Regions from separate parts of the Homo sapiens genome. Here all the other regions are linked to region 1. Evidence: fine-mapped expression QTL. A gene starts in region 1. Each other region holds a variant in brackets. All regions are shown on one strand. Distances are from middle to middle.

Region 1 (2,759 bases):
GATCTCTGCCACCACGTCCGGCTAATGTGTGTGTGTGAGTTTTTAGCAGACACAAGATTTCACCATGTTGCCCAGGCTGGTCTCGAACTCCTGACCTCAAGTAATCCTCCCGCCTCGGCCTCCCAAAGTGCTAGGATTACAGGTCTGAGCCACCGCGCCTGTCTGCCACTCGTTTAATAAATGGTCGTTACTCAAAGAGTGGTGATGGGGCCACTCTTGATTATCAATCCTTCAAACAGAAAAGCCCTTTTCTGTGACTCTTTTCCTTCCAAGCTGACTTTAGAAGTGTGTTTGTGGCCGGGCGCGGTGGCTCACGCCTGTAATCCCAGCACTTTGGGAGGCCAAGGTGGGCGGATCACGAGGTCAGGAGATCGAGACCATCCTGGCCAACATGGTGAAACCCCGTCTCTACTAAAAATACAAAAAATTAGCTGGGCTGAGTGGCGCGCGCCTGTAATCCCAGCTACTCCGGAGGCTGAGACAGGAGAATGGCGTGAATCAGTGAGCCAAGATCCCACCACTGCACTCCAGCCTGGGGACAGAGCAAGACTCCGTCTCAAAAAAAAAAAAAAAAAGTGTGTCTGTAAATGTAGTTCAGAACTTCGGAGCCCTGTCTTTACAGTTCAAACTGACCACGCGAAGACTAAAGGCAGTAGAGGTACTTTCTACAAATTTAGCCGTGCAATCTAATAGCGAGCAGGCCGAGACGCCCGCGATTGAAGGCCGGGGTGGAGAAAGTAATAAGGGCCCTGGAAATTACCCCCATCCCATGTCACCCACTCTTTCTTAAAATGCCATTAAATTCCGTTCAACTTTTTATCTCCCATGCAAGAAACTAGCGACTTGCCAGCCACGCCACTTCCAGCCAGTCACACCTGGCGTATTCGCCGCAGAATCTCCAACTCCCGCCACAGGTTTGGGACGTGTCCGCCCCTAAGCGGAAGTGACGTTCAACGGGACAACGTGAAAGTAGATGAGTTTAAATACGTACTAATAATTTAAAACCCCTATGGTATTTTGAGGAAACTCTTCCGGCTACCCTTCTTCCATCACTTCTCTCCCGTTAGGGTTGCGAAAAGGGCTCTGTACAGCCTCGCGACAACTCGTTCTCCGCCCTAATTTCAAGTCATTCAAAACTCTGTCCCTTTTCATTGGCTGAAGCGGCGGCATGGGTACCTCTCAGGAACTACAATTCCAGCCAAGCACCGCGACAAGTGAACGGAGGAGAAGTTATGAGTAGGGGAAAAGCATGTTGGGAATCGTAGTCCGCTCCAGGCCGAAAAGAGCAATCACCCCGCCCTCCGCCACTGAAGCTGGAGAAACCAGGTGTTCGTTTCAGAACCCGTTAGCGCTAAGGGGAGGAGCCAACCCCTTAAGCAGCATGCCTCACTTCGCCCCACATGGAGGATAATTTTCCTTTACCCCTAAAAAGCACTATAAATACCCACTGAGGAGATCTGGTTGTCTTTTAAATACCTCGAGTCAGTAAAAACTCACGAAACTCCGCACCTCAGGCTCCAACTCGTGGGAAAAGGTAGCTCTTTTACAAGTGGGCAAAATGGCTGTCCTCCTAGTTTTACCATTGGTTGGCTTTTGCGTCCTTCAAGGGCGGTTACTTACCACGGATTGGTTCTTTTTCTCTTGAGGTTGGAGGAAGATTTGGCACGGCTCTCCGCGGCCTGGGAGGAGGTAAAGGGGTGGAGAGAAGACAGTTTTTTTCAAGCTTGATTGGGCAAAACTCATGTCACTCCGGGGACGTACAACCTATGAATAGTCGGCTGCCGCTCAAAGAGAACGAAGAGGCGGGGCTAGTGCGTGGTGGGAAGGGGCGGGATTCTGCCAGCCGCGGCTGCCGCTGGAGCCGGTGTCCGGGCTGGTGATGGGGTTAATTCCCTTTCGTAAGACTCTTACTTGCACCCACCCAGCCCCGCCGTCGCCCCGCCGCGCCGCGCTCCAACCGCCTCCTCCTCCTCAGTAACGCGGGTAAGAGATGCCCTTCCCTCCCCCGTCCAGCTCCCCGGGAATAACGCGCCTTGCTCCCCTCCCCCGCCCGCCAACCGGTAGCGCTAACGGAGAAGGAGGCAGGCAGGGGAGAGATGTGGTGTGTGGAAAGGTGGCCTTCCCCGCCGGGTCGTCGGCGCTTCAGCCAGGGCCTTCTGACGTCCCGCTGCTGCCAGCCCGCCGTTAGGTCGGGTTCCGAGTGAGCCAGGCTCGCCTGGCCCGCGGCTGCGGCTCCGGCTGCAGCTGCAGCCACTGCCTTGTGCCCACCGCCCCCACCCGGGGGCCATGTGAAAAGCAAACCCCTCGAGGCCTAGCGGAGGAGGCAGGGGAAAGGTTTCCGAGTCCCTGCCATGGCTGCTGCTGCTGCCTCCGCGGCTGCTCTTGCAGCCCCAGGGACTCGGGAGCCAGCCACAGCAGGCCTGCCAAGAGCGTGGTACTGCTCTCTCGTGTGGCTGGCGCCGGTGCCCCGGGCTCCCCCGGCCGCCCCACGGCCGCATCCCCTGGCCTTGCACCAAGAGAATTTTCAGCTTCGACCGGTTGGTAAAATGTAGGTACATTTTCCCTGTGGTACCAGAAAAAGCACAATGGGAATATTAAAAAGAAAGTTGAATGACTGTCAGTGCCACGGTCCCCCGGGATCAGATTTACACACGTTTTGATTCCTGAGCCTTAGGCTGCCAACAAATCTTTGTGGGCTTTGAAGTTTTTTGGTGTTTTGTTTTCTTTTGTTGCTGTGACTAGGTGCAAAGGGTGACTCT
Region 2 (2,759 bases), 300 kb before region 1:
CCTCAGTAGCCGATTTGATCAACTGGAAGAAAGACTATCAGTGATGGAAGATCAAATGAATGAAATGAAGCGAGCAGAGAAATTTAGAGAAAAAAGAATAAAAAGAAATGAACAAAGCCTCCAAGAAATATGGGACCATGTGAAAAGATCAAATCTACATCTGATTGGTGTACCTGAAACTGATGGGGAGAATGGAACCAAGTTGGAAAACACTCTGCAGGATATTATCCGGGAGAACTTCCCCAATCTGGCAAGGCAGGCCAACATTCAAATTCAGGAAATACAGAGAACGCCACAAAGATACTCCTCGAGAAGAGCAACTCCAAGACATACAATCGTCAGATTCACCAAAGTTGAAATGAAGGAAAAAATGTTAAGGGCAGCCAGAGAGAAAGCTCGGGTTACCCACAAAGGGAAGCCCATCAGACTAACAGCGGATCTCTTGGCAGAAACTCTACAAGCCAGAAGACAGTGGGGGCCAATATTCAACATTCTCAAAGAAAAGAATTTTCAACCTAGAATTTCATATCCAGCCAAACTAAGCTTCATAAGTGAAGGAGAAATAAAATCCTTTACAGACAAGCAAATGCTGAGAGATTTTGTCACCACCAGACCTGCCCTAAAAGAGCTCCTGAAGGAAGCACTAAACATGGAAAGGAACAACCAGTACAAGCCACTGCAAAAACATGCCAAATTGTAAAGACCATCGAGGCTAGGAAGAAACTGCATCAACTAACGAGCAAAATAACCAGCTAACATCATAATGACAGGATCAAATTCACACATAACAGTAATAACCTTAAATGTAAATGGGCTAAATGCTCCAATTAAAAGACACAGACTGGCAAATTGGATAAAGAGTCAAGACCCATCAGTGTGCTGTATTCAGGAAACCCATCTCATGTGCAGAGACACGCATAGGCTCAAAATAAAGGGATGGAGGAAGATCTACCAAGCAAATGGAAAACAAAAAAAGGCAGGCGTTGCAATCCTAGTCTCGGATAAAACAGACTTTAAACCAACAAAGATCAAAAGAGACAAAGAAGGCCATTACATAATGGTAAAGGGATCAATTCAACAAGAAGAGCTAACTATCCTAAATATATACGCACCCAATACAGGAACACTCAGATTCATAAAGCAAGTCCTTAGAGACCTACAAAGAGACTTAGTCTCCCACACAATAATAATCAGAGACTTTAACACCCCACTGTCAACACTAGACAGATCTACGAGACAGAAAGTTAACAAGGATATCCAGGAACTGAACCCAGCTCTGCACCAAGCAGACCTAACAGACATCTATAGAACTCTCCACCCCAAATCAACAGAATATACATTGTTTTCAGCACCACACCTATTCCAAAATTGACCACATAGTTGGAAGTAAAGCACTCCTCAGCAAATGTAAAAGAACAGAAATTATAACAAACT[G/C]TCTCTCAGACCACAGTGCAATCAAACTAGAACTCAGGATTAAGAAACTCACTCAAAACCGCATAACTACATGGAAACTGAACAACCTGCTCCTAATGACTACTGGGTACATAATGAAATGAACGCAGAAATAAAGATGTTCTTTGGAATCAATGAGAACGAAGACACAACATACCAGAATCTCTGGGATACATTCAAAGCAGTGTGTAGAGGGAAATTTATACCACTAAATGCCCACAAGAGAAAGCAGGAAAGATCTAAAATTGACACCCTAACATCACAATTAAAAGAACTAGAGAAGCAAGAGCAAACACATTCAAAAGCCAGCAGAAGGCAAGAAATAACTAAGATCAGAGTAGAACTGAAGGAAATAGAGACACAAAAAACCCTTCAAAAATTCAATGAATCCAGGAGCTGGTTTTTTGAAAAGATCAACAAAATTGATAGACCGCTAGCAGGACTAATAAAGAAGAAAAGAGAAGAATCAAATAGACGCAATAAAAAATGATAAAGGGGATATCACCACCGATCCCACAGAAATACAAACTACCATCAGAGAATACTATAAACACCTCTATGCAAATAAACTAGAAAATCTAGAAGAAATGGATAAATTCCTCAACACATACACCCTCCCAAGACTGAACCAGGAAGAAGTTGAATCTCTGAATAGACCAATAACAGGCTCTGAAATTGAGGCAATAATTAATAGCTTACCAACCAAAAAAAGTCCAGGACCAGATGGATTCACAGCCAAATTCTACGAGAGGTACAAGGAAGAGCTGGTACCATTCCTTCTGAAACTATTCCAATCAATAGAAAAAGAGGGAATCCTCCCTAACTCACTTTATGAGGCCAGCATCATCCTGATACCAAAGCCTGGCAGAGACACAACAAAAAAAGAGAATTTTAGACCAATATCCCTGATGAACATTGATGCAAAAATCCTCAATAAAATACTGGCAAACCGAATCCAGCAGCACATCAAAAAGCTTATCCACCATGATCAAGTGGGCTTCATCCCTGGGAAGCAAGGCTGGTTCAACATACGAAAATCAATAAACGTAATCCAGCATATAAACAGAACCAAAGACAAAAACCACATGATTATCTCAATAGATGCAGAAAAGGCCTTTGACAAAATTCAACAACCCTTCATGCTAAACACTCTCAATAAATTAGGTATTGATGGGATTTATCTCAAAATAATAAGAGCTATCTATGACAAACCCACAACCAATATCATACTGAATGGACAAAAACTGGAAGCATTCCCTTTGAAAACTGGCACAAGACAGGGATGCCCTGTCTCACCACTCCTATTC
Region 3 (2,759 bases), 85 kb before region 1:
ACAGTATATTACTTCAACTACGTGAAATTTATAGAAAAGGTAAACTGTAAAGAAGGAAAAAAAGCAACATCATTTGTTGACTAGGTCTGGAGGTGGGGACAAGGATTGACTGAGTACAAAGAGGCACAAACTTTTTGGTAAAACGGAAATTCTAAAAGAATTCTAGTGATGCTAAAACTGATCAAACTGTGTATAGTTTATAACACAAATTATACAGTTATGTGTTAATTTTTTATATGTAGATTATACTGCAATAAGCTATTAAAGCGGTAGGCGTGGGCGGGGAGGGTACAATCAAAAAGAAGAAAACATATGTCTCAAATTATGCTAATAGTTTTGATAAAATAAGAAATGAGCAATGATCACTGGATTTAGCTACTCTGGGGAGTATTAGTAGCCTCCGTAAGTGTAATTTTGGTGTTATGGTTAGCATGAAAACCCAACAACAATAGGACCTGAAAAATGGAAGCAACAAATACACATAATTATTACATGGAATTTTGCAGTAAAGAAGTAAAGAAATATAGTGGTAACTGGAGGAGAATATGCAGTCAAGAGTAGGCTGGTTTGGTTGCTTTGTTTTTAAAGGGAAAAATAGGCCGGGCATGGTGGCTCATGCCTGTAATTCCAGCATTTTGGGAGGCTGAGGCAGATGGATCACTTGAGGTGAGGAGTTAGACATCAGCCTGGCCAACATAATGAAACCCCATCTCTACTAAAAATACAAAAATTAGCTGGTCATGTTGGCAAACTCCTGTAGTTCCAGCTAATGGGGAGGCTGAGGCAGGAGAATCGCTTGAACTCGGGAGGTGGAGGTTGCAGTGAGCCAAGATGGCTCACTGCACTCCAGCCTGGGTGACACAGTGAAACTCCATCTAAATAAATAAGTAAATAAAGGGGAAAATAGTGTGCTTTTATGGTAATAAGAACGATCAATAGAGAATGGATTGAGTGGGAGAAAATCTATAGAATTGCCAGAGCAATGTTCTTGAGTACATAATAGGAGGCAATGGTTGAAACTGCATGACAAGGGCCAGGTGCAGTGGCTCACACCTGTAATCCTAGCACTTTGGGAGGCTGAGGCGGGTGGATCACAAGGTCAGGAGTTCGAGACCAGCCTGGCCAAGATGGTGAAACCCTGTCTCTACTAAAAATACAAAAATTAGCCGGGTGCAGTGGCGGGTGCCTGTAATCCCAGCTACACGGGAAGCTGAGGCAGGAAAATTGCTTGAACTCAAGAGGCAGAGGTTGCAGTAAGTCGAGATTGTGCCACTGCACTCTAGCCTGGGTGACAGAGCAAGACTCCATCTCAAAAAAAAAAAAAAAAGAAAAGAAAAACAAAAAAAATTGCATGACACGGCCTGGTGCAGTGACTCACACCTGTAATCCCAGCACTTTGGGAGGCTGAGGCGGGTGGATCACATGAGGTCAGGAGTTCGAGACCAGCCTGGCCAACATGCTGAAAGCCTGTCTCTACTAAAAATACAAAAACTTAGCTGGGCATAGTGGTGAGTGCCTGTAATCCCAGCAACTTGGGAGGCTGAGGCAAGAGAATCGCTTGAACCCAGGAGGCAGAGGTTGCAGTGAGCTGAGATTGCGCCATTGCACTCCAGCCTGGGCAACAAGAGCGAAACTCAATCT[C/CA]AAAAAAAAAAAAAAAGAAAGAAATTGTATGACAGAATCAACAGACGGATAGTTCATCCAGGGTATTAGGGGAGACGATAAAATACAGGGGTAAAAAAGCAGAGACATGAGTAGATATAGAGAGCTTATAATACTTCTTGTCTGATAGCTTCATTTCCTTGGAAACGGAGGAAGCAGTGTCATCAACTGGGTGTTAAGATGCAGGAGGAGGTGTTAGAAATTTGAGGACATGGGAGAAAGAAAGAAATAGTTGTCATGGAGAATGATAGAGAATGAATAGTGCAGTATAGTATGACTGCCAGCCAGAGCATGGATTTAAAGCTAGAATAATTGGCAGGTTTTTCTCCAACCACCATTAGAAGTACGGGCATACAGGAACAAGCTTGATGAAAAGTCGGATTTAACCAGAACTGTCCTAGCCACATGAGGACAGAAAATAAGAAGGAGCAAGAAATTTGAGAGTGTATTTGAGGAAAGTATTAGAATGATTAACCATGGAATTTAATCTAGGTATGAAGAAAAGAGGCTATCAGGAGAGTGAGAGACTGTGCAAAGGTGTAGCGTTTGGAAGGATCAATAGATTGTAGGTCCTGGTAGTGTTTTGACTAATTGTTGGAACTGGAGTAGAAAAGGTGTGAGCTGGAAAAATAAGACGTGAAAATTTTCCTTATGAAATTTATTTGATAATTCCTTCAATTTAATGTTTAATTTTCCTATTTTATTTTCTCTTTATGAAGTATCTCTTAGCTATGTGTTTAACCTCTTGGGTTGTTCTGTTTAATTTTCTTTCCTCTATTTTTCTGTCTTTTTAGGTTCCTTGTTTCAACCCTTTTTATTTTATTTTATTTATTTTTTGAGAGACTCTCGCTCTGTCTGTCACCCAGGCTGGAGTGCAGTGGCACAATCTCAGCTCACTGCAACCTCCACCTCCCGGGTTCAAATGATTCTCCTGCCTCATCCTCCTAGCTAGGATTACAGGCGCGCCACCAAACCTAGCTAATTTTTGTATTTTTAGTAGAGATGGGGTTTCACCATGTTTGCCAGGCTGGTCTTGAACTCCTGACCTCAGGTGATCTGCCCGCCTTGGCCTCCCAAAGTGTTGGGATTACAGACGTGAG

Direction of the effects. Alleles are on the strand shown, and positions count from the first base shown. SD is a standard deviation of normalised expression in the study named.
For the expression in neural progenitor cells of the gene that starts at base 1,568 in region 1, G is the high allele of the variant in region 2 and C is the other (large effect, 1.2 SD a copy in Aygun 2021).
As copies of C replace CA in region 3, the expression in lymphoblastoid cells of the gene that starts at base 1,568 in region 1 goes up (moderate effect, 0.57 SD a copy in GEUVADIS).

What was found. PIP is the estimated chance that this variant, and not a neighbour inherited with it, causes the effect.
Region 2: its variant is the best candidate, but not a certain one, in a credible set for the expression of ZRANB3 in neural progenitor cells (Aygun 2021, PIP 0.65).
Region 3: its variant is the best candidate, but not a certain one, in a credible set for the expression of ZRANB3 in lymphoblastoid cells (GEUVADIS, PIP 0.80).

Annotation. Positions count from the first base shown.
Region 1 is chr2:135,529,651-135,532,409 of GRCh38, forward strand. ZRANB3 (zinc finger RANBP2-type containing 3) reads right to left here and starts at 1,568. Exons shown (of 21, transcript NM_032143.4): 1 at 1,477-1,568. It overlaps R3HDM1 (R3H domain containing 1), which reads left to right and starts at 1,834. Exons shown (of 27, transcript NM_001378107.1): 1 at 1,834-1,983. RefSeq lists enhancers at 881-960, 1,311-1,580, 1,549-1,843 and a silencer at 1,811-2,000.
Region 2 is chr2:135,233,153-135,235,911 of GRCh38, forward strand. The region is part of intron 12 of ZRANB3 (zinc finger RANBP2-type containing 3); the gene reads right to left. Among named protein-coding and RNA genes, the nearest start is that of SNORA40B, 98 kb to the left of the region's middle. The variant G/C (reference allele first, on the strand shown) is at 1,435.
Region 3 is chr2:135,444,565-135,447,323 of GRCh38, forward strand. All of the region lies in intron 2 of ZRANB3 (zinc finger RANBP2-type containing 3), which reads right to left. Among named protein-coding and RNA genes, the nearest start is that of ZRANB3, 85 kb to the right of the region's middle. The variant C/CA (reference allele first, on the strand shown) is at 1,642.